2 separate regions of the Homo sapiens genome follow, and region 2 is linked to region 1. The links come from fine-mapping of genetic effects on gene expression. A gene starts in region 1. The other region holds a variant in brackets. All regions are shown on one strand. Distances are from middle to middle. Region 1 holds the start of MADCAM1-AS1 (MADCAM1 antisense RNA 1). Region 2 holds the start of LOC124904608 (a long non-coding RNA gene).

Region 1 (12,560 bases):
CGAGGGGGCGTGGCCCACTTTCAGCGGGAATGTTAAGAGCCATCGTGCTACTTCTCAGTCCACTTCTCTGTGGTCATGATTGCAGGTGCGTGTCAAGATCAGACAAGCCCTTGGTGGGGGGTGGGTGGGGGTGCCGTGGCTCCTGCCTGTGAGCCCAGCACTTTGGGAGGCCGAGGCAGGAGGATTGCTTGAGTCCAGGAGTTCGAAACCAGCCTGGGCAACATAGTGAGATCCTGTCTCTACAAAAATTTAAAAATCAGCCAGGTGTGGTGACGTGCGTCTGTGGTCCCGGGTACTTGGGAGGCTGAGGTGGGAGGATCCCTTGAGCCCAGGCGGTCGAGGCTGCAGTGAGCTGGGATTGCACCACTGCACTGCAGGCTGCGTGACAGCAAGACCCTGGCTCAAAAAGAAAACTGGGCCAGGCACAGTGGCTTATGCCTGTAATCCCAGCACTTTGGGAGGCCGAGGCGGGTGGATCACTTGAGGTCAGGAGTTCAAGACCAGCCTGGCCAACATGGTGAAACCCCGTCTCTACTAAAAATACAAAAATTAGCCGGGTGTGGTGGGGGCGCCTGTAGTCCCAGCTACTCGGGAGGCTGAGGCAGGAGAATGGCGTCAACCCAGGAGGCGGAACTTGTAGTGAGCCGAGATCGCGCCACTGCACTCCAGCCTGGGTGACAGAACCAGACTCCATCTCAAAAAAAACAACAAAAAAACAACTGGACGTCCCCTGCAGAGTAAGCGAGAAGAGTTTTGCTTGTGTTGAAGCCACTGAGGTTTGGGGTTGTTGGTTCCTGTCGTGCTCGCAGCTTCTGACTGACAGGTCTGTGGGCCGGGATTACCCAGCGCCATCCACCACCACTTCTGCATAAATGCTCTCCTCTCTGGGGGCGGCAGCCCTGGTCCAGCTCCGCAAGCATCCACGCGGCCCCTCGGTGTGCAGGGCTCTGTGCCTGGCCCAGGCCTGCCTCGGGTGTTCGTCTGCCCCTCCCAGCTGTGTGCACTCTCCTTTTCTGCACCTGGCCTTGTGCATCTACGGAGTGGGGGTTCTTGTGAGGACGGGAGAACGGGGCTGGAGCCAGGTGCTCAGGACAGCAGCTGGCATACGTGTGGGAGGCCCCACCTGCTTATTTTGGGCTGTAATTAGGGCTGCAGCTCAGCCACAGCTGCCTTGAGGGGCAGGAAGACACACAAAGAGGTAATTACAGCCTGGTGAGATCACAGCCATGATGACGGCAGGAGACAGGAAGGTGACAGCCCACTTCAAGGCGGCCGCATACCCGCCCCTCCTGGGCTCCCGGGCGGCTCCCAGCAGAATCATCGGGTGAGGGAGGAGGAGGAAGAGGAAGGCAGCAAGCTCTGGGCTCGGAGGAGGAGGCCGGGGCTGGAACGTCAGCTCTGCCTGTGACGGTGGCCTCTGGGCCTTGGTTTCCCTGATTGCAAAATGGAAAGCGGGAGCCCAGCCAGGGCTCCGTCTGTGTCGGCTCCTACACAGAGCGGTTTGTAAGGCGTGTGAGCATTTGTTAATACAGGAAAGATTCTATTTATGGAACGTCTCCAGAAAGAGACAGGAGCCACCCTACACCTTAGACTTCTGCTTCCCACTCCTGCCCCCAGCAGACGCCGGGCGGTGTCTGGGACATCTGTGGTTGTCACGACTCGGGGAGCTCCTGGCAAGGAGTGGGTGGAGGCCAGGGACGCTGCTCAGGGCCCTGCAGTACCCAGGACGGCCCCCAGAGGACGAGTCGGGGGAACCCTGGCCCAGATCAGCTGGGGCTTCGTTTTCGTGCACGTTTTCCTGGCAGTGACCTGCAGGGGGCAGTGCAGCCCTTGCTGCCAGGATGAGCAACGTGGTGGCTGAGGAGGCCTCCGGGGCTGCACTCTGGGGCTCTCTGACCCCAGCTCTGCCCTCGGTGGCCGTGTGGCCTTCAGCAAGTCATGTAACGTCTGTGTGTGTGCTCCAGGGGGCCTTGGAGACGACCAGGAAGGTGGCAGGAGGGGGACACTGTGGCTGCCATCACCAGCCCTGGCGGCCGGAGCTTGCCATTTCTCAAAAGAAGGTGCCAGGGAGGATCTGGGGTGACTTCTCCCCCAGCCTACCACGGTGATGCTCTCAGGAGCAGCCCCAGTCAGCCCCTCAGCCTTTGGGGGTCAACACACTGGACTGAGTGGGGACAAATCTGCCAGGCTCTGAGCTTCTCTTTTTTTTTTTTTGAGACAGAGTCTCGCTCTGTCGCCCAGGCTGGAGTGCAGTGGCGCGATCTCGGCTCAATGCAAGCTCCGCCTCCTGGGTTCATGCCATTCTCCTGCCTCAGCCTCCCGAGTAGCTGGGACTACAGGCGCCCGCCACCACACCCGGCTAATTTTTTGTATTTTTAGTAGAGACGGGGTTTCACCGTGTTAGCCAGGATGGTCTCGATCTCCTGACCTTGTGATCCGCCCGCCTCGGCCTCCCAAAGTGCTGGGATGACAGGCGTGAGCCACCGCGCCCGGCTGCTCTGGGCTTCTCTTCCTGACTGGTCAGGTGACCTCAGGGGTTCCTGACGGTCCAAGGATGGAGGGGCGGCCGGAGCTGCCTGCTGGGAGGACGGGAGCAGGCCTGGCTCCATGAGCACAGAATCAGATGCCACGCAGGTCTGTGCACCTGTCTTCTGCATTCCCCACTGGCTGTGTCTCTGGGGAGCCCAGGCGAGCCCAGGGCCGGGATGCATCTGCCACCAGCACCACCCTTGCCCTGAGTCCCTGCTATGAGAACTCTTCCAGCCAATGGCTCCACTCCTGTCCTGGGGTGACTGGTGCCCACCAAACTCACGCCCATCCAGAACCTCAGACTGAGAGCTTATTTGAGACAGCAGCTTTGCAGATGTAGGCGGTTGAGGTCACACTGGAGTAGGGTGGGGCCTAGTGGTGTCCTTATGAGGGAACACAGAACAGAGACACACAGGAGGCCACGTGACGACGGAGGCAGAGACTGCAGCAATGTGGCCACAAGCCAAAGACTGCTGGCCGCCACTGGAGGCTGGGGAGGCAAGGAAGGCTCCTTCCCTGGAGCCTCCAGAGGGAGTGTGGTCCTCCTGACACTCCGATTTCAGACTTCTGCCCTCCAGAACTGTGAGAGAATAAATTTCTGTTGTTTTAAGCCACTAAGTTGGAGGTAATTTGTTCCAGCAGCCCTCGGAAATTAATATAAATATAAATATCCTCATCTGCAGTGTCTACGGGGTGAGTGGCTTGTGCAGTGCTCAACCTGAACAACCATACGTGGTGGGCCTGCTGTTGACCCCTTTTCCTCCTTGGGAGATTCTCTTCCGGATGTCCTGGGAGGCCATCTTCCTCCTGCTCCCCGTTCACCTCTGGTCTCACGTTCTCACCCTCTCTGGTGGGCTCTCTGGGCTAGGTGCCCTCAGAGTGGGGTCCTGAGCTCTTCTCATCTCTCCTGAAGACTTCAGGACCCCTCCAGTTCAGTCTTCTGTCCTGGCCCCACGTCAGTTGCAGACGCTTCTTTCTACCTTCCTGTCTCCAGGCTCCTCCCAGCCTCCAACTTAATCCGCAAGTGGCTCTGGCAGCTTCTTCAAACCAGGGGCCTTCCATCGCAGTAAACGGCTCCACTGACCCTCTGGGCCTGCCCTTGCCCGCTCCCCTCCCACCTGGCTCCAGCAAATCATCGGGCGGGGCCTTCAGAGCCACTGGGCCACCGGAGCAAGTCTGCTCCTTGTCCAGGTACCCAACACCCTGCCACCCTTATCTGAGTATGATCTTGGACACCTGTGCACCCTGAACGTGGTAGGGGGGACACTCCCCATCTCTCTTCTCCCCCCGAACTTCTCTGGGACTCTGGCGAGGGCTGCCATGGTGGGCGCTTATGCCCTGGTTATGAGGCTGAAAGGGCACCTTTGCTTGGCATCCTTCCCTGCCTGCTCTTCCCACCCCCTTCCTGGGTTCTCTTGGGCGCACCCCCTTGTAAAATCACCTGCACACACAATGCCTACCTCAGGCTCCGCTTCTGGGGACCCCCCCCCCAACAAAAGACATCAGCCCATCCATCCCCAACGCCAACAGATAGTCCCCAACCACCTTCCCTGGGCTCAGAACTGGCCCCAGCCAGGGGACACCGCGCGTAGGCACCTGCAGCCTCGCATGCTTCAGCCAAATTCCGTGGCTTTCCCGCCTCCCGTGTGCCCCACACTCGGGGTCTAAATTTGCACCTGCTGGGCCTCTTCCCTGCAACCCGCCCGCACATCGCCAGGCTCTTCCAGGAATCCCCACCTGCCCGCTGGGAGCCTGTCCCCTAAGATGGGGGCCCTGGGTGACTGCGCTGCTCTCTGTAAATATTCACGTTCTGGCTGAATGGACGGGGATAACATGAGGCTGCTAAGGAGGCGACTAGGAGGACCTGGCTCGGGGGCTGGCTCTGCGACCTCGGGCCAAGTCCTCTTGAGCTGCACGATTTTGAAAATCATGAACTGCAAGGGGAAACTCAGCACCTGCAAAAAGGCATCACAGAAGGCGAAGCCGGCCAGAAGGACTCGCGCCGCATGCAGCGCGCTGCCTAGCGCCGGACCGAAGCCCGGACCCTCCAGCCCACCTTGTCCGATCCATCCCACCCAAGAAGGCATCGCGCACTACAACTCCCAGCAAGCCCCGGGCCCCTGCGCCGGCGCTGCGGGTAGGGAGCCGCGCGCGGCATGCTGGGAGTTGAAGTCCATCGCTGCCCCACCCGCCCAAGCCGGCCCACTGCGCACCTCTGGGAGTGGTGGGCCAGGCGAAGGTGCCATAGCGCGCGGCCCAGGCGCTGCTGCTGCAGCAGGAGCTGGCCCGGGGGCTCCCCGGCGCCGCCGTTTACAGGCGAGCGCAGGCCCATGTTCTCGAAGTAGTGAGCCAGGAAGGCGATCGGCTCCTCGGGCCGCGCCTCCAGCACCTTCAGCAGGGCCGCACGTAGCATTTCCGTCACGCCGACCTGCCGCAGGAAGTCCTCCTCGCTCTCGGCCGCCCCCGCCGCCCGGGATACCGACTGGCGGCCGCTGTCCGTGAAACCGGCCGGCGGTGGTACCGCTTGCCGCCGCTTCTCCACTGCCGCCATCTTCGCTGAGGGCAGCGGGACCGGAAGCACCGCCATATTCCACTGTGCGCTAGAGCCCCCCCAAGGCGGCCATCTTGATTAAGGGCAGAGGGCACCGGTATCCCGCTGGGAGACTTTGGGAAGTGACAAGGGTACGCTACCACTTTCCTTGTGTCCTTATTGGCACTCTCTCTTCTCCTCCCTCTTTGTGTATATTGATTGGCTCTCCTGGCTTTGGCCTCGGTCCTGAATTTTGCCAGACTCCAAAATGGCTGCCTCGGAAGTGCTTCGTTTCTGGCACAAAGCCGGATTGCTTGCCATTTGGGTAGTGAGCGAGTCCTTCATTAGCATGGTCTCCTAGCAACCAGTCTCCCTGGTTAGCAGAGAAGCCTGACGGAGCATGCGCGGGGCTGGACCTGCCCAGGACTGCTGGACCCAGCCCCGCGCCCGGCCCCCAGACCCTTTTCTCATGTTCATCTCTGAGCCTTGGTGCTGGGGGTCGAGCTCAGCCTGGCCTTCCGCCTAACTCAGTCAACGTCTGAGTGCGTAGCTCACCTCGTGGGAGAAGCCCCCTCCCCAGCTCCGCTGCAGCTGCGCTGAGCCCCTATTGGCGGCCACACGGGCGAGCATCCCGCGCTGTTACCCCCTGACCGCCAGAGGGAGCTTTCTGACACCGCAGCCTCCAGAGCTGTAAACTCTGCCATGGCTCTCCAGGGCCCCCGGGCTGGCACCTCCAGGCCTTCATCGCCTGACCTCGCTTCCGGCCGCCCTCCCGGCCCTCCCAACCCTCCGCAGCCCGCAGCCACCTCAAAACACAAGCAGTCTCCTCCATAAGCCGCCTCTGGGTGTGTTTCCCCAGGCGACCTCTGTGGATCTTCCCTCACTGCTTTCGGGGACTCCTGGTTAAGCTTCTCACCGAGGAAACCACTAAGCCCTCGCGTTTCCCCGCCCCGGGCAGAGCTTGCTGGGTGCCGTCCCCGTCCCTCAGGGGCGTTGCCCCGGGCAGGGGGCAATGAGAGCTGTTTGCCGGGGGACCGTTCCACCATCCTCCCAGCACAGGAATCTCTGGCGGGCAGACCAAATGCCCTTTGTAAAACGTGAAGTAGAGGTTCCTCTTCAAATGAGACTTTCCTCCCCATCTAATTAGGAATAAATAGTAACTTCTCTTAGAAGCAAAATGTATTCAAAGGCCTGTGGTAGGCCGGGCGCGGTGGCTCACGCCTGTCATCCCAGCACTTTGGGAGGCCGAGGCGGGCGGATCACGAGGTCAGGAGATCGAGACCATCCCGGCTAACACGGTGAAACCCCGTCTCTACTAAAAATACAAAAAATTAGCCAGGCGTGGTGGCGGGCGCCTGTAGTCCCAGCTACTCGGGAGGCTGAGGCAGGAGAATGGCGTGAACCCGGGAGGCGGAGCTTGCAAGTGAGCCGAGATCGCGCCACTGCACTCCAGCCTGGGCGACAGAGCGAGACTCTGTCTCAAAAAACAAACAAACAAAAGACCTGTGCTAACATTCTTTGTTAATTAATTGTTAATGTTATATTGAATATATATAATGTAATAAGGAAATCAACATACTTTATGTTCTTAGTGCCCACAATGTAGGCTAAATATCTGCCCTGGCATGCTTATACTGGTCCAAGCAAGCATTAGGTCATAACCTGTTCCTCTTCCTTATTTGAAGGTGTTTTTACCTTTCTTAGCATTCCACAAGCTACTTCTTCCTTCCTTTGTTCTCCTCTGCCTTTGCCTCTTTTTAAAAGTTCCAAGCTGCTAGCCGATCGGGATAAATACAGAATGTGAGGTCCCGTTCCAGCCAATGGAAACCGTCCCGTTCCAGCCAATGGAAACCGGACAGAGCAGTAGGGTGGACGCGTCAGGTTATAAATGACCCTGTCTCCTTTGTTCTGGATACTCTCGTGGCAAAACTGCTGGCCAGTGTACCCTTTCTGCAGAAAGTAAAACAGTGGCCTTGCTGAGGAAATGACATTTATATTCAAGTGCTATTTCTTTACGGCACCGGGGAACAAGCATTTCTAACACTTTCTTCTCCAGCCCCGGACTGTGGGATGAGGGAGATGGAGCCATCAGGGCAGGACCCACAGTCAACCCTCTGCTGTCCGGAGCCCTCAGACCTCTCCTCTCCACGGAGTGGGTGTCAACTGAGAAAACTGACACGTTTGTATCATTTTAGGAGGTTTATTTGCCAAAGCCTCAGGAGGTCCTGACGACAGGGGCCCAGGGTGGTCAGGGCACAGCTTGGTCTTACGCATTTTTAGGGAGACGTGAGACATGAATCAATGTATGTAAAAAGTACGTGGTTCCGTCCAGAAAGGTGGGGACCACTCAGGGAGGGGCTTCAGGTCATGGGTAGGTGAGACAAACAGTGGCCTTCTTTTGAGTTTCTGATGAGCTTCTCCAAAGAGGCAATCAGAACATGCATCCATCTCTGTGAACAGAGGGATGACTTTGAGTAGAATGGGAGGCAGGTTTGCCCTGACCAGTTCTCAACTTGAAGGGGTCCAAGCTATTTTGCTTTCACAGGGGGAAAGGCTGGCCACTCAGGAGGGGCTGATCCCGACCTGGCCGGTCCCCCTTAACCCAGCCCAGGCCGACACCTGGGGCAGAAGCCTCAGAGAAGCTGGTGGGTGGGTGTCGTCCTCAGCCAGGTGCCGGCAGCGTTTCCAGAGGTGATAGGTGGGCAAGGCCAGGAGCAGCAGTCCCAGCACCGCACTGCTGGTCCACAGAGCCGCGGGCAGCTGGTCACCCGCAGGTTTGGACGCTGGGGAGAGAGTGCAGGAGACCCCGGTCAGAGCCCTCCAGGCCTCTGCAGGCTTGGGAAGGGAGGAGCCCCTCAGAGGCTACACGTGCTTCCAAAGTTACCACGTTCCCTGAAATTTCACAAAGGACTTTACCATGACCCTTTTGAAATGCGCATAGCACCTTAGAGTTTAGAAATGGGCAGTCCAGGCCAGGCGGGGTGGCTCACGCCTGAAATCCCAGCACTTCGGGAGGCCAAAGCGGGTGGATCACGAGGTCAGGAGTTCGAGACCAGCCTGACCATGGTGAAACCCTGTGCCTACTAAAAATACAAAGTTAGCTGGACATGGTGGCAGGCGCCTGTAATCCCAGCTACTTGGGAGGCTGAGGCAGGAGAATCACTTGAACCCGGGAGGTGGAGGTTGCAGTAAGCTGAGATCGCACCACTGCACTCCAGCCTGGGTGACAGAATGAGACTCTGTCTCTCAAAAAAAAAAAAAAAAAAAAAAAAGGGCAGACCGGAGAGAGGACGGCTCACCACCATGAAGGGTGCTGAGCCTACAATCTGCACTTTGAAGACTTAGTCTGGGGAAAAGGGAGGAATGTAATATATCTCCTTCATACTATTTTATATTGATTACCTGTTGAAATGATAATGCTTGGGATATATTGGGCTCTGCGAAATGTATGACCACACTTTTTTTTTTTTTTCGAAATGGAATCTTGCTCTGTCCCCCAGGCTGGAGTGCAATGGCGTGATCTTAGCTCACTGCCACTTCCGCCTCCCGGGTTCAAGTGATTCTCCTGCTTCAGCCTCCCGAGTAATCCTCAGCTGGGATTACAGGCACATGCCACCACACCTGGCTAATTTTTGTATTTTTAGTAGAGATGAGGTTTCACCATGTTGGCCAGGCTGGTCTCGAACTCCTGACCTCAGGTGATCCTCCTCCTTGGCCTCCCAAAGTGCTAGGATTATAGGCATGAGCCACCGTGTCTGGCCAACACTTTTTTTTTTGAGACTGAGTCTTGCTCTGTCACCCAGGTGTGATCTCAGCTCACTGCAGCCTCAACCTCCTGGGCTCAAGTGATCCTCCTGCCTCGGCCTCCCAAAGTGCTGGCATTACAGGCATGAGCTACCATGCTTGGCCCGACCACATTATTTTTACTTTTAATTTTTTTTTTTTTTTTGAGACGGAGTCTTGCTGTCTCCCAGGTTGGAGTGCAGTGGCGCGATCTCGGCTCACTGCAGGCTCCGCCTCCCAGGTTCACGCCATTCTCCTGCCTCAGCCTCCCGAGTAGCTGGGACTACAGGCGCCCGCTGCCACGCCCGGCTAATTTTTTGTATTTTTAGTGGAGACGGGGTTTCACCGTGTTAGCCAGGATGGTCTCGATCTCCTGACCTCGTGATCCGCCCGCCTTGGCCTCCCAAAGTGCAGGGATTACAGGCATAAGCCACCGTGCCCGGCCCATTTTTTTTTTTGAGATGGAGTCTCGCTCTGTGCCCCAGGCTGGAGTGCAGTGGCGCGATCTCGGCTCACTGCAAGCTCTACCTCCCGGGTTCATGCCTTGCCTTTACTTTTAAATTTGAAATTACCTGTAGGAAGTAGAAAAGTTCCTCTTCAAAGCTCGTCTTGATTTACAAATAAAATAATAGACATAGACACTAGAAATAATAGCTTCTTACTCTAAAGCCTCCTATCAGCTATTAGTTCTTACACTTTAGCCCAGTTAGTTGCTTGGGCTTACCCAGGCATATCTGGAGAGTCCCAGGGAAGTCTTAGCTCATAGCTTATGCCCCTTCCTTATTTGGAAATGTTACTGCTTCCTCAAATCTTTCGTAAGCAACTTCCTCTCCTTGTTTGTCCTCCTTTGCGCTTACCTACTTAGGAAAGTTTTAGGTTGTTAGCAAACTGGGTATCAGTTTAAGAGTGTGATATCCTGCTCCAGCCAGTGGATGCAGGACACAGCAGTAAGGGCGACCCAAATGTGTGAGGGATAAATATGTCTGCTTTTCCTTTGTTCAGCTGTGCTCTCGCCATTGTTCCGTCTACAATGAGCACCCTTTCTGCAGAAAGTAAAAGTGGCCTTGCTGAGAGAATTAAATTTGTTTGAGTGCTATTTCTTTGTGGCACTGGGGGACAAGCATTTCTAACATTACCTATGTGGGCCGGGTGCAGTGGCTCACACCTGTAATCCCAGCACTTTGGGAGGCCGAGGCGGGCAGATCACCTCAGGTCAGGAGTTGGAGACCAGCGTGGTCAACATGGTGAAACCGCATCTCTACTAAAAATACAAAAATTAGCCGGGAGTGGTGATGGGTGCCTGTAATCCCAGCAACTCAGGAGGCTGAGGCAGGAGAATCGCTTGAACCCAGGAGGCGGAGGTTGCAATGAGTCGAGGTTGCACCACTGCACTCCAGCCTGGGGGACAGAGCGAGACTCTGTCTCACAAAAAAAAAGGAAAGAAATTACCTATGTGGCCGCATTGTTTCTGCTTCTATTCCAAAGATTCTTCTAGTCTACAAGGCTTAGAATTTACCAAGTGCCTTGACATCTACACAGTCCCTGATGTTTACAAAAAGGACCCACAGTTAAGAGAAGCCCACTGGACAGACAAGGAAACTGAGGCTGGGCAGATGGGGAAACCGAGGCTGGAAAGACGGGGAAACCGAGGCTGGGCAGATGGGGAAACCGAGGCTGGGCAGACGGGGAAACTGAGGCTGGGCAGACGGGGAAACCAAGGCTGGGCAGGGCAATTTCTTGTCTAAAGTCTTCATCCAAGGAACCTCTCGCTCTCAGCCCTTCCCACCCTCCCTGCCCCCAGGGACCAGAACTCACAGCCTGTTGGGATCACTTCTCCCTGCGTGGGCCCAGCCTGGGAGATCTCAGGGCGGCGAGTCCTGGTGGAGCCTGGGCTCCTGGGGGTGTGTGTGGAGCCCTGCTGGGGGGCGGGCTCCGGGGAGGTCTTGTCGGGAGGCTCCGGGGAGGTGGTGTCGGGAGGCTCCTGGGAGGTGGTGTCGGGAGACTCCGGGGAGGTGGTGTCGGGAGACTCCGGGGAGGTGGTGTCGGGAGGCTCCGGGGAGGTCGGGCTGTGCAGGACTGGAAACAGAGTGAGGGTTTTTTTTTCCTCTCTGCTGCCCCAGGCTTGCCTCTCCTGCCTCAATCTCCGCATCTGGATGAAGGGCTTGGACCAGAACCCCTCCAAGCCCCTTCCCTGGACCACTCTGGTGAGTCACATTTCCATTTATTCTTTTTTTTTTTTTTTTTTTTTTTTTTTTTTTTGAGACAGAGTTTTGCTCTTGTTACCCAGGCTGGAGTGCAGTGGCGCAATCTTGGCTCACCACAACCTCCGCTCCTCAGGTTCAAGCGATTCCCCTGCCTCAGCCTCTGGAGTAGCTGGGATCACAGGCGCTTGCCACCACACCTGGCTAATTTTGTATTTTTAGTAGAGATGGGGTTTCTCCATGTTGGTCAGGCTGGCCTTGAACTCCCAACCTCAGGTGATCTACCCACCTCGGCCTCCCAAAGTGCTGGGATTACAGGCGTGAGCCACCACGCCCGGCCTGGTTTTTTTTTTTAGAGATGGGGTCTCACTCTGTCGTGCAGGCTGGAGTGCAGTGTTGTGATCATGGATCACTGCAGCCTCAACCTCCCAGGCTGAAGCCATCCTCCCCACTCAGCCTCCTGAGTAGCTGGGACCACAGGTGTGCAATACCACGCCCAGCTAATTTTTAAATTTTTTTGTAGAGATGGGAGGTCTCGTATGTTGCCCAAGCTGGTCTGGAACTCCTGTACTCAAGTGATCCTCCCGCCTCAGCCTCCCATGGCTGGCCTACATTTTTGTTTCTATTCGGCTTACTGTTCTAGTTGATAAAGCCTAGAATTTGTTGTTGTTGTTGAGATGGAGTCTCGTTCTGTTGCCCAGGCTGGAGTGCAATGGTGCGATCTCGGCTCACTGCAACCTCCGCCTCCCGGGTTCAAGCGATTCTCCCGCCTCAGCCTCCTGAGTAGCTGGAATTACAGGCGCTCACCACCACGCCAGGCTAATATTTGTATTTTTAGTAGGGGACGGGGTTTCACCATGTTGGTCAGGCTAGTCTCGATCTCCTAATCTCGTGATCCACCCACCTCAGCTTCCCAAAGTGCTGGGATTACAAGCATGAGCCACCGCACCTGGCCACATCTAATTTTTGTATTTTTAATAGAGATGGGGTTTCACTATGTTGGCCAGGCTGGTCTTGAACTCCTGACCTCAGGTAATCCACCCACCTCAGCCTCCCAAAGTGCTGGGATTACAGGCGTGAGCCCGGCCTAAAGCCTATAATTTATAAAGTGCTTTGAAATCCACATGGTCCCTGAAATTTACAAAGGACCCACAGTCAGGGAAGTCCACTGGACAGATGAGGAAGCTGAGGCACCACAGTGGGCAGGATGGGAGTCCGGGCATTCCAGGTCCCCCACTCACTGGCAACATCACCCCAGCAGCCTCCTTAATCTCCACGTGCCTCAGTTTCCTCAACTGTCAAAGGGGTGAGAGTCACCTCTTTGGGCTGCCCTGAGAGCGAGTGGGTCCCGCGTTTATTATGATGGGCTGTGGACGAGGAGAGTTGGGAGGAGGCTGGCGTGGAGAGAGAAGGTGCTTGGGGGCTTTCTGCCCTGGCCTTCTGCTCCATCCCCTGTGGGACTGATGGGGAGACTGAGGCCCGTGAGGGCCCGTGTTCTGTAAAATATCCCTCAAATC
Region 2 (10,280 bases), 19 kb after region 1:
CATTGCACTCCAGCCTGGGCGACAGAGCAAGACTGTCTCAAAAAAAAAAAAAAAAAAAAAAAAAAAGGAGGAAGGAAGGATCTTCGTGGCCCACCTGGCACAGGTCCCTGAAGGAACCCTTGTCCGAGTCGAGTCCCTCCCCGCAGGCTGGCCGAGCTGACCACGTCGCTGAGCCTGGGCAGAGCTGACAGGCCTCCCTGGGGTCAGTGACCGCCTGGTGAGGGGCTGGGGCAGTGCTCAGTCTCCAGCAGCCCCGGGGAAATTGGACATGGAGCCTCAGGCGATGATGCTGGTGTGGTCTCCACGGCAGCCCCACCTGAGCTAATCAGGAGGGGTCTGGGGGGATGGGGGTCCATGGGGCAGGAGGCACACTATGGTGAGAGCCGGCTTGGGGCTGGCTCCGCCCAGGGGAGGGGGGGCTTGGGGCTGGCTCCGCCCAGGGAGAGGCGGGGCCTGGGGCTGGCTCCGCCCAGGGGAGGGGGGCTTGGGGCTGGCTCCGCCCAGAGGAGAGGCGGGGCTTGGGGCTGGCTCCGCCCAGGGGAGAGGCGGTGCCTGGGGCTGTCTCCTCCCAGGGGAGGGGGGGCTTGGGGCTGGCTCCGCCCAGGGGAGAGGCGGTGCCTGGGGCTGTCTCCGCCCAGGGGAGGGGGGGGCTTGGGGCTGGCTCCGCCCAGGAGAGAGGCGGTGCCTGGGGCTGTCTCCTCCCAGGGGAGGGGGGGCTTGGGGCTGGCTCCGCCCAGGGGAGAGGCGGTGCCTGGGGCTGTCTCCTCCCAGGGGAGGGGGGGCTTGGGGCTGGCTCCGCCCAGGGGAGAGGCGGTGCCTGGGGCTGTCTCCGCCCAGGGGAGGGGGGGGCTTGGGGCTGGCTCCGCCCAGGAGAGAGGCGGTGCCTGGGGCTGTCTCCTCCCAGGGGAGGGGGGGCTTGGGGCTGGCTCCGCCCAGGGGAGAGGCGGGGCCTGGGGCTGTCTCCGCCCAGGGGAGGGGGGCTTGGGGCTGGCTCCGCCCAGGGGAGAGGCGGGGCTTGGGGCCGGCTCTGCCTGGGGAAGCGGCGAGGCCTGGGGCCCTGGTCAGCTGCTCTGACGCCTTGGTGCTCCCGGGGGCATCTCCAGGCTCACCCCAGCTTCCACGGCCCTGTCTCACGGGTCAAAGGGCCACTCAAAAGCTGCTTTGAAGACGGGGGCCCAGCCAGGAGCCGCACAGGCCTCTCCCGAGGGTCTAGGTGGCTAGAAGGGCACAAGCCACACGGCGTCGCGTCGAGAGACTGAAATTGTCTATGAACCGCCCTCGCCGGGTTTGAGACTAGAGAGCTGGTGTTTACACGACGTCGCAAACACCATAAAGGGCACTAAACTGTTTCTTTAAAAGCCTTCTTTTTTTTTGAGACGGAGTCACTCTGTCGCCCAGGCTGGAGTGCAGTGGTGAGATCTTGGCTCACTGCAACCTCCGCCTCCTGGGTTCAAGCGATTCTCCCGCCTGAGCCTCCTGAGTAGCTGGGATTATAGGCACGTGCCACCATGCTCAGGTAAGTTTTGTATTTGTAGACTTTTTTTTTTTTTTTGAGACAAAGCCTCACTCTGTCACCCAGGCTGGAGTGCAGTGGCACGATCTCAGCTCACTGCAACCTCTGCCTCCCAGGTTTAAGCAATTCTGTCTCAGACTCCGGAGTAGCTGGGACTACAGGCGCCTGCCACCACGCCCAGCTAACTTTTGCATTTTTAGTAGAGACAGGGTTTCACCATATTGGTCAGGCTAGTCTCAAACGCCTGACCTCAGGTGATCCGCCCGCCTTGGCCTCCCAAGGTGCTGGGATTACAGGCGTGAGCCACCGCGCCTGGCCAATTTTTGTATTTTTAATAGAGACGGGGTTTCCCCATGTTGGTCAGGCTGGTCTTGAACTCCCCACCTCAAGTGATCTGCCCACCTTGGGCTCCCAAAGTGCTGGATTACAGGTGTCAGCCACCGCGCCTGGCCCTGAAGCCTCCTTTCTAACACGAATATCAACTTAGAAACGGACGCAGCTATTGGAAAACATGTGCAACAGCTAGGGTTTGTGAAGCCACTTTTCCAACTAGAACTTTAGTGGCCTGAAGTGCAGGTTGAATATTTCCTGTGAGAATTAGGAAGTGGACACAAATGTGCAAAATACACACTGGGCTCTGAACGCTCAGCGTGAACAAAGAGTGTACAGCATCTCAACATGTATTGCTTATGAATCGAAAGGATAGTATTTTGGACACAGTGGATTAAATAAGATAAAGATACATCTTTGTTTTACGTTTCTTTCTTTCTTTTTTTTTTAGCTGGAGTTTCACTCTTGTCGCCCAGGCTGGAGTACAGTGGTGCTATCTCGGCTCACTGCAACCTCCACCTCACGGGTTCAAGTGATTCTACTGTGACGGCCTTCCAAGTAGGTGGGACCACAGGCATGCGCCACCACGCCCGGCTAATTTTTGTATTTTTAGTAGAGACGAGGTTTTGCCATGTTGGCCAGGCTGGTCTCAAACTCCTGACCTCAGGTGATCCACCTGCCTCGGCCTCCCACAGTGCTGGGATTACAGGCGTGAGCCAACGCGCCCGGCCTTGTTTTATGTTTCATACGATTTATTTTACTTACTACCACCCATTTCTTTTCTTCTTTCTATCGTGGCCGCCGGACGTGGGGCTCCCGCTCCGCTTCTGGGGACGCCGCTCTGGCCTCTCTCAGCACCGGGCAGGGGCCAAATGTGGGTGTTCGCCCTGGGTCGGGGTTCAGGCAGAGCCGCAGCCTCCTGGCTGGGAGGGTTCTCGCCTGCAGGCCGGCGGCCTCTGAGGACGACTCGCTCTCCATTCGCCACCCAACCCGCGCTGAGTGCTGGACATCCCGAGCGCGCTCTCCGTCCCTGCAGTTCCTAACGGGTTGGGAGGGTGGTTCTCCCCCGGCCGCAATCCCGCCCCCAGGAGGCACTAACCCTAACGTGGCATCTGGGGCCATCTGTGGTTGTCACGACTGGGAAGGGGGAGATCCTGGCCTGCACGGTCACCCACAGGCCCGACGGCCCCCGGGAGCCTGTTTCGGGTGCAGCACACCCGGGCTGGATCGAGCACGGTCGGGGAGGATGCGGGGCTGGGCCAAGGCCCTCGGCTCTGCAGGGAGGACGGAGAGCGGGTCCGGGGGGTCCGGGGAGGGAACGGGGCCGAGGCTCTGCGTCCACTGCCGGGCCGATGGGCCATGGGCTGCGAGGGCGGGTCGGGCGTAGAGGGTCTGGCTGGGAGGGCGGGTCAGAGGTCGGGGCCGCGGGCTGCGAGGGCGGGTCAGAGGTCGGGGCCGCGGGCTGCGACGGCGGGTCGGGAGTCGGGGCTCGGCCTGCGAGGGTGGGTCAAGGGTAGGGGGTCCCGGTCGGGGCCGCGCTCAGCACTCAAAGCGCCGCCATCCCTGCTGATGACATTCTCGACCCGCAGGGCGCAGCTGACCAGCCGCTCCCCCTCCTTTTCCGCGGGTGCAGCTCACTGGCCCTGCCACTGCGCGCGCACCCACCCCGCCCACAGCTCCCGGCAGCTCCCGCGCGGCCCCCGCAGCTGAACCACAACTCCCGCCATGCCGCGGAGCGCGGGGCGCCGGGGCGTGTGGCCCACAAGGCTTTGCGCGCTGGCGGGGCCGCTCTAGCCCGCGGTCCTCCGAGTTCGTGGCGGGCTGATGCGGGCTTGGGGCGGGCGGCGCGGACGCCCTGGCGGCTGTCTCGCCCCGTGGTCGGTCTCCTCGCGTTCCCACTGCGGGGCGCCCCGGCTGCCCTTGCGTGGGGCCCGGCACGGGGCGGCCGAGGGGGCGTCCCCGCCGCGAGTCTTCCAGCGCGCTGGTCCCGGGAGGCCTGGCCGTTCGCCCAAGGAGCCTGGTGTCCCCGGGCGGAGACTGGGAAGCCGGGTCCTGTTCCCCGGCGCTGGGCTCGCTGCGGGGGTCGGGGCCGCAGGGCCCGGTCGGGGATCCAGGTTCCGGGACGCGGATTCTGGAGTAGGGGCTGCGGGGCTTCCGGCCCGCTTCGCGGGTCAGGGTCACCGGGAGGCCGTGGTTGCGTTGGGGGTACCCGGACGTCAGTCCCAGCAGCGCGAGGGACGAGGGCGCTCGTTAGTTCCACACTGATTTACTTGTTATTTTTTTGAGACGGAGTCTCGC[T/C]CTGTCGCCCAGGCTGGAGTGCAGTGGCGCCATCTCGGCTCACCGCAAGCTCCGCCTCCCGGGTTCACGCCATTCTCCTGCCTCAGCCTCCCGAGTAGCTGGGACTACAGGCGCCTGCCACCACGCCCGGCTAATTGTTTGTATTTTTAGTAGAGACGGGGTTTCACCGTGTTAGCCAGGATGGTCTCGATCTCCTGACCTCGTGATCTGCCCGCCTCAGCCTCCCGAGGAGCTGGGATTACAGGCTTCAGCCACCAAGCCCGGCCTTTTTTTTTTGTATTTTTAGTAGAGATAGTGTAGCAGGAAGAGCCGCAGACAAAACTCCTCAGACACCCAGTTAGAGAAGGAAGCGGTTTATTCGGCCGGGGCCATCGGCAAGACTCCTGTCCCAAGAGCCGAGCTCCCCGAGTGAGCAATTCCTGTCCCTCTTCAGGGCTCACAACTCTCAGGGGGTCCGCGTGAGAGGGTCGTGATCGATTGAACAAGCAGGGGGTACGTGACTGGGGGCTGCATGCACCGGCAATCAGATCGGAACAGAACAGGACAAGGGTTTTCACAGTGCTTTTCCATACAATGTCTGGAATCTATAGATAACGTAACCCAGTAGGTCAGGGGTCGCTCTTTAACTACCAGGCCCAGGGCACAGCGCCGGGCTGTCTGCCTGTGGATTTCATTTCTGCCTTTTAGTTTTTACTTCTTTCTTTGGAGGCAGAAATTGGGCATAAGACAATATGAGGGATGGTCTCCTCCCTTAATAGAGTTTCACCATGTTGGCCAGGCTGGTCTCGAACTCCTGACCTCAGCTGATCCCCCCTGCCTCATGCTTGTTATTATTTTGACACAGGGTCTCACTCTGTGGCCCAGGCTGGAGCGCAGTGGTGCGATCTCCACTCACTGCAACCTCCGCCTCCTGAGCTCAAGCAATCCTCCCGCCTCGGCCTTCCAAAGTGTTGGGACCACAGGCACACGTCATGCGCCCTGCCAGCACATCTTTATTGAGTGCCTGCTGTATGCCAAGCGTTGTTTTAAGTGCCAAGGAGACAGCAGAGTGCAAGGTGGGCTGACCTCGGCCCGAAGGAGCTTACATTCTAGTGAGCAGCAGGGAAGAGAGACCATGAGCCAGGCTAGTTATGCCATAAACCTCGGGCATAATACCGAAGTGGTGCTGTGCGGAGAAATGTTGAACAGCTGGCTCTCCAAGGGAAAAGGCCCTCACTTGCAGCGCACGCCGCCCCCTGTGTTGTAAATACTCCCATCGTGGCTGCCAACATGAGCCAACCAGCTCACAGATCGCCGCGAACTTCACAGTGGGCTCAGGAGCTGGCATGAGCAGCTCCAGCCGCCGCTGCAATAGGTGAGGCGTGGAGAGTGCTGCTGGGAAGAAGGAAAAGGCAGGGAAGGGGGCAGGCAGCATGATGATAGGCAGGTTGCAGGATCAAATCTGTGGTCCCGATAGGCCGGGCATGGCGGTTCACACCTGTAATCCCAGCACTTTGGGAGGCTGAGGTGGGCGGATCACTTGAGGTCAGGAGTTTGAGACCAGCCTGGCCAACATGGTGAAACCCCATCTCTATTTCTTTCCTTCTTTTTTTTGAGATGGAGTCTTGCTCTGTCGCCCAGGCTGGAGTGCACTGGCACAATCTCGGCTCACTACAAGCTCCGCCTCCCGGGTTCACGTCATTCTTCTGCCTCAGCCTCCTGTGTAGCTGGGACTACAGGCGCCTGCCACCACGCCTGGCTAATTTTTTGTATTTTTAGTAGAGACGGGGTTTCACTGTATTAGCCAGGATGGTCTCGATCTCCTGATCTCGTGATCTGCTCGCCTCAGCCTCCCAAAGTGCTGGGATTACAGGCGTGAGCCACCGCTCCCGGCCCCATCTCTATTAAAAAAGACAAAAATTAGCTGGGTGTGGTGACGGGCGCCTGTAATCCCAGCTACTTGGGAGGCTGAGGCAGGAGAATCGCCTGAACCCACCAGGCGGAGGTTGCAGTGAGCCGAGATTGCGCCACTACCCTCCAGCCTGGGTGATAGAGCAAGACTCCATCTCAGAAAAACAACAGAAACAAAAAATCAATCAATCAATCAGTGGTCCAAGGAAGATCCTGGAGGTGGAGAGATTTGAGCAAGGCCTTCCTGGAGGGGGAGGGAGTTGGACCGGGTGTATCAGGCAGAATGTACGGTGAGTGCAGAGGCTGAGTCCGGAGGGACCAACGCAGCCAGAGAGGGCAGGAAGGACCTGGGCTTGTAGGACCTTGCAGGCTACAGCAGAGCCCACTAGGACCCCTCTCCAGCCCCCCAAATCCTCGGAATACAAGCCCTTCCTTCCTCTGAGCTTCGGTGTCCTCGTCTGTAACATGAGGACTTGCCAGGCATGGGCTGGGTGCCCAGCAGAGCCTGAGAGCTGGTCCTGTCCTCACTGTCCCACGGGGACAGCAGGCTCTCTCTGGATGAGGATGGAGGGGAGCTGGCAGGTTCTCTGTGTCCTTGCGGGAAGAACAAGCCTTCCTTGTTAGAGTCTCCCGGGAACAAAGGGGCGGGCAGCAGCAGGGCGCGTGAGTCTGAGTCAGGGGGCTGGCCGCCGGACAAAGGACAGCAGTGAGCAGCCTCAGGGAAGTGGGGAGTGGCAGATCACGGAGGCTGGGAGCATGAGCTGACCCTGGACGGGCCGGTGGCAGCAGCCACAAACACCTGGCCTCCCCCTCTCCTGCTGTGCCGTGTGCCAGGGACACAGAAACAGCAGGTCATCGGAGGAACCCGGCCTCCTGGGAGCTGCCTCCCAGCTGTCGCACCCTCATCTGCAGCCGGAGGATGTGTTTTAGGAAAGAATGTCGGGAACTTGGGGCTGGCACCGTGGCTCACACCTGCCCTCCCGGTGCTTTAGGGGGCTGAGGTGGGAGGATCGCTAACCCCAGGAGGTCAGGGCCGCCTCATTCCCACCATTCTCTGATCACCCTTCTCCACCGTCAGTGAGCTGTGATCGCGCCAGCCTGGATGGTGGAGTGAGACCTTGTCTCTAGAGAAAAGAACGGTGGGACTTGGATCGGCAGCAGCCACAGCAGTCATGTCTGTCATCTGGACTATTGTAGAGCTTCATTCCACTCACTGGCTCAGCAGGCACTCACTGCGCACCTGTTCTGGGCAGGCGGTGTTTGGGATGCCCAGGGCGCCACGGGGCTCGGGCACGCCCGGCTCCTGCCTCTTCGTGTTCCTATGTGAGCACGCGTGTGTGTGCGCGCCTGCCTGTGTGTGCCTCATCGTGCGCACCCACGTGGTGTAAACGTGCACCTGTGTGTGTGTGTGTACGTGTGTTACGTGGTAGAGCACGGCAATGACCCTCCATAAACAACTAAGCAGGTCAGCAGGGTCCTCCGCTGGGTTGAGGTTGCACCCGCCCTTCCAGGACCCTCCCCTCCTCTCACTCCCCTTCACCCCACAGCGTCTCAGAAAATCTTGTGAGTTCTGCCTTCAAGACAGGCCCAGAACCCACCCACTCCTGACCATCCCACAGCAGCCCCCAGCCCAGGCCCCGTGGTGCCCACCTGGGCTGGTGTGCTCGCCTCCCCCGGGCTTCCCTACCCCCACCTTCCTACCCTCAGTCGATTCCTTCAAACCCAATTCAGGCCGTGCCCTCCTCTGCTCCAGCAGAGGCCTCCGTGGCTCCCACCCTGCTCAGGGTAAAACCCTGTGTCCTCTCCGTGTCCTCAGGGCCCTTCACGACCTGCTGGGTCAGCCCCGCCCTCCCTCCTCCTGCTCTCCCCTCCTCACCCTGCGGCAGCCACCCTGGCCTCCTCCTCGCTCCTCCGCCTCGCCAGGTGCGGTCCTGCCCCAGGGCCTTTGCACAGCGGTGCCCTCCCCAGACACCCCGTAGATGTCTGCACAGCTGGGCATCCCTTAGAGGTCCTGACTTCCTCCAGGCCTTTGCTAACGTTTCACCTCTTCAGGGGGCCTTCCTGGCCACCGTATGTGAAGACCCAACTCTGCTCTGAGGTTTCCTTTCTGTGATCACGTCACTGCACACTCCAGCCTGAGCACAGAATGAGACCCTGTGTCAAAAATAAAACAAGAGGCCAGGCGCGGTGGCTCATGCCTGTAATCCCAGCACTTTAGGAGGCCAAGGCGGGCGGATCACCTGAGGTCAGGAGTTCGAGACCAGCCTGACCAACATGGAGAAACCCCGTCTCTACTAAAAATACAAAAATTAGCCGGGCGTGGTGGCGCACACCTGTAATCCCAGCTACTCAGGAGGCTGAGGCAGCAGAATCGCTTGAGCCCGGGAGGCAGAGATTGTGGTGAGCCAAGATCGCGCCATTGCACTGCAGCCTGGTGACAAGAGTGAAACTCTGTCTCAAAAAAAAAAAAAAAAAAAGAAAAAGAAAAGAAAAGAAAAAAATAAATAAAACAAGAGAGACATGTGTTCACAGCATTATTTGCGGTTGTTCCGAGCTAGAAGCAGCCTAGAAGCTCTGAGTAAATCATGGCATCTTCATGGGATGGAACGTTGCCCAGCAACAGAAGTGAGTGATGGACAGCTGTCACCCACACCAGGACTGATCTCACAGGCAGGGTGGGAGGTCTCATGAGTGCACCGTCCCCTTCCCGTGCCGCACAGAAGAGGCAAAGCGGGGCCTGGCTTTACAGGCAGGATGGCGGCTGACAGGTAGAGGGAAGGAAGATGGCTGCAGGGGCTTCCGGGGAGCTGGGGACACAGTGTTGATCCCAGAGCCGGCCCCATGGGGATTGATTGATCCCAGAGCTTCCGGGGACCCATGAGAGGAAGAGCTGATGGCTCTCTGCTGCAGGGTCTTCCGCAGGCCCTGTGGACATCCCAGGTGGGGTGGTCCCGGCCACTGCAGGGTGCCTAGCGGCATCCCTGCCCCCACTCACCCCATGCCAGGAGCTCCCCCAGTCGTGACGACCACAGGTGTCCTTGGACACTGCCCAGCGTCCCCTGGGGGCAATCACCTGGGTTGGGAACCCCTGGTCTGTTGATTTCAGCCCACCATGATCTCATAGCTCCGTGTCACTGGAACGAGGGTGAGCCTGCATGCCTGGGGGAGTGGTGAGGGAACTCAGGCAGGTGGAGGTCTGTCGGGGAGGAGCCTGTGCTAGACGCAGTGGCAGCCAGGATGGGCGTCTGTAGGGCTTCCCATGGTCATGTCTGAAGAGCTGGCTCTGGCTGACATAGAGTGGCCTTTTGGGGCTGGGAGAGGCGTCCCAGGGATCCCTGAGGAGGTGGGGGTGGGTGTTGGGGGGGGATGGGGCCCTGGACTGGGCCGTGGCTGTGAGGTGGAGAGCAGCAGTCAGCTGCTGAGTGGGCTTTGGATCCAGGAAGCGGCCCCAGGGGTTTGGATCCAAGTCAGCATGGGTCTGGAGGTGCCATTTGCTGGAGTGAGGGAAGGCTGGAAGAGGATGTTTGAATGATAAGGGGCCAGATGCCCTTGTCTTCAGAGTGACCCTGTGGAGTCAGGCTGACATATGCCCGTTTTTCAGAGGAGGAAACACATGCACAGTGGTGCAGTGATTCATCAGGGACCACACAGTGTCTAATCCAGAAACCCTGGTTCATGGGCGCAGGAGGTCTGCCTGGGAAGTTCACTGCAGGAAATTGTAAAGGAGGTGAAGTGGGAATAGCCTCGGTGCCCGTCGAGGGGCGGGGCTGGGGTGCTCGTATGATGGCGGCCAGGGTGGGTGACATTCAGACTGGCAGGTGTAGGTGGGCAGGACAGTGCAGGGCCAAGAACATTCTGGACTTGAGTCCTAGGTCCACACTCCTGCTGGCTTTGTGACCTCCGCCTCTGTCCATGGTGATAGGCATGGAACAGCTCGTGGGGTGGCGCCTGTGAGCACAGAGCTGGCAGCAGAGCCGTTCTGCATGAGTAATCTGCTGTATGCCAAGGACGCCCTGCCGATCTCACCCTGTATGCAGTAGGCGATTAATAAGTGCCCATCCACTAAGGCAGCATTTCCCCATCTTGACACCATTGACATTTGAGGGTCTTCTCTTGGGAGGAACAGCGTTGTAGTTCTCCAGTCACTAGATGTCATCAGCACTCCTGGTCCTGGCAGCCAAGAATGTCTCCAGACATAGCCAAGTGTCCCCTGGGGGCAGCAACACCCATGGCTGAGCACCATTGGCCC

The links. PIP is the estimated chance that this variant, and not a neighbour inherited with it, causes the effect.
Region 2: its variant is fine-mapped to the expression of MADCAM1-AS1 in prefrontal cortex (BrainSeq, PIP 0.95). The same link has a PIP of 0.9 or more in putamen.

The regions. Positions count from the first base shown.
Region 1 is chr19:500,027-512,586 of GRCh38, reverse strand. MADCAM1-AS1 (MADCAM1 antisense RNA 1) reads left to right here and starts at 4,698. Exons shown (of 3, transcript XR_936221.4): 1 at 4,698-5,211; 2 at 10,963-11,046. MADCAM1 (mucosal vascular addressin cell adhesion molecule 1) reads right to left here. Exons shown (of 5, transcript NM_130760.3): 4 at 10,658-10,918; 5 at 7,244-7,842. The coding sequence ends at 7,622. It overlaps TPGS1 (tubulin polyglutamylase complex subunit 1), which reads right to left and starts at 5,090. Exons shown (of 2, transcript NM_033513.3): 1 at 4,743-5,090. The coding sequence starts at 5,080. RefSeq lists enhancers at 1-668, 669-1,509, 1,808-2,107, 4,945-5,284, 5,157-6,014 and silencers at 1,664-1,958, 5,815-5,944.
Region 2 is chr19:482,368-492,647 of GRCh38, reverse strand. It overlaps LOC124904608 (a long non-coding RNA gene), which reads right to left and starts at 3,482. Exons shown (of 2, transcript XR_007067072.1): 1 at 2,943-3,482; 2 at 2,578-2,782. It also overlaps a transcript of CIMAP1D not described here. RefSeq lists silencers at 3,093-3,142, 3,213-3,842 and enhancers at 2,670-3,171, 6,477-6,995. The variant T/C (reference allele first, on the strand shown) is at 4,142.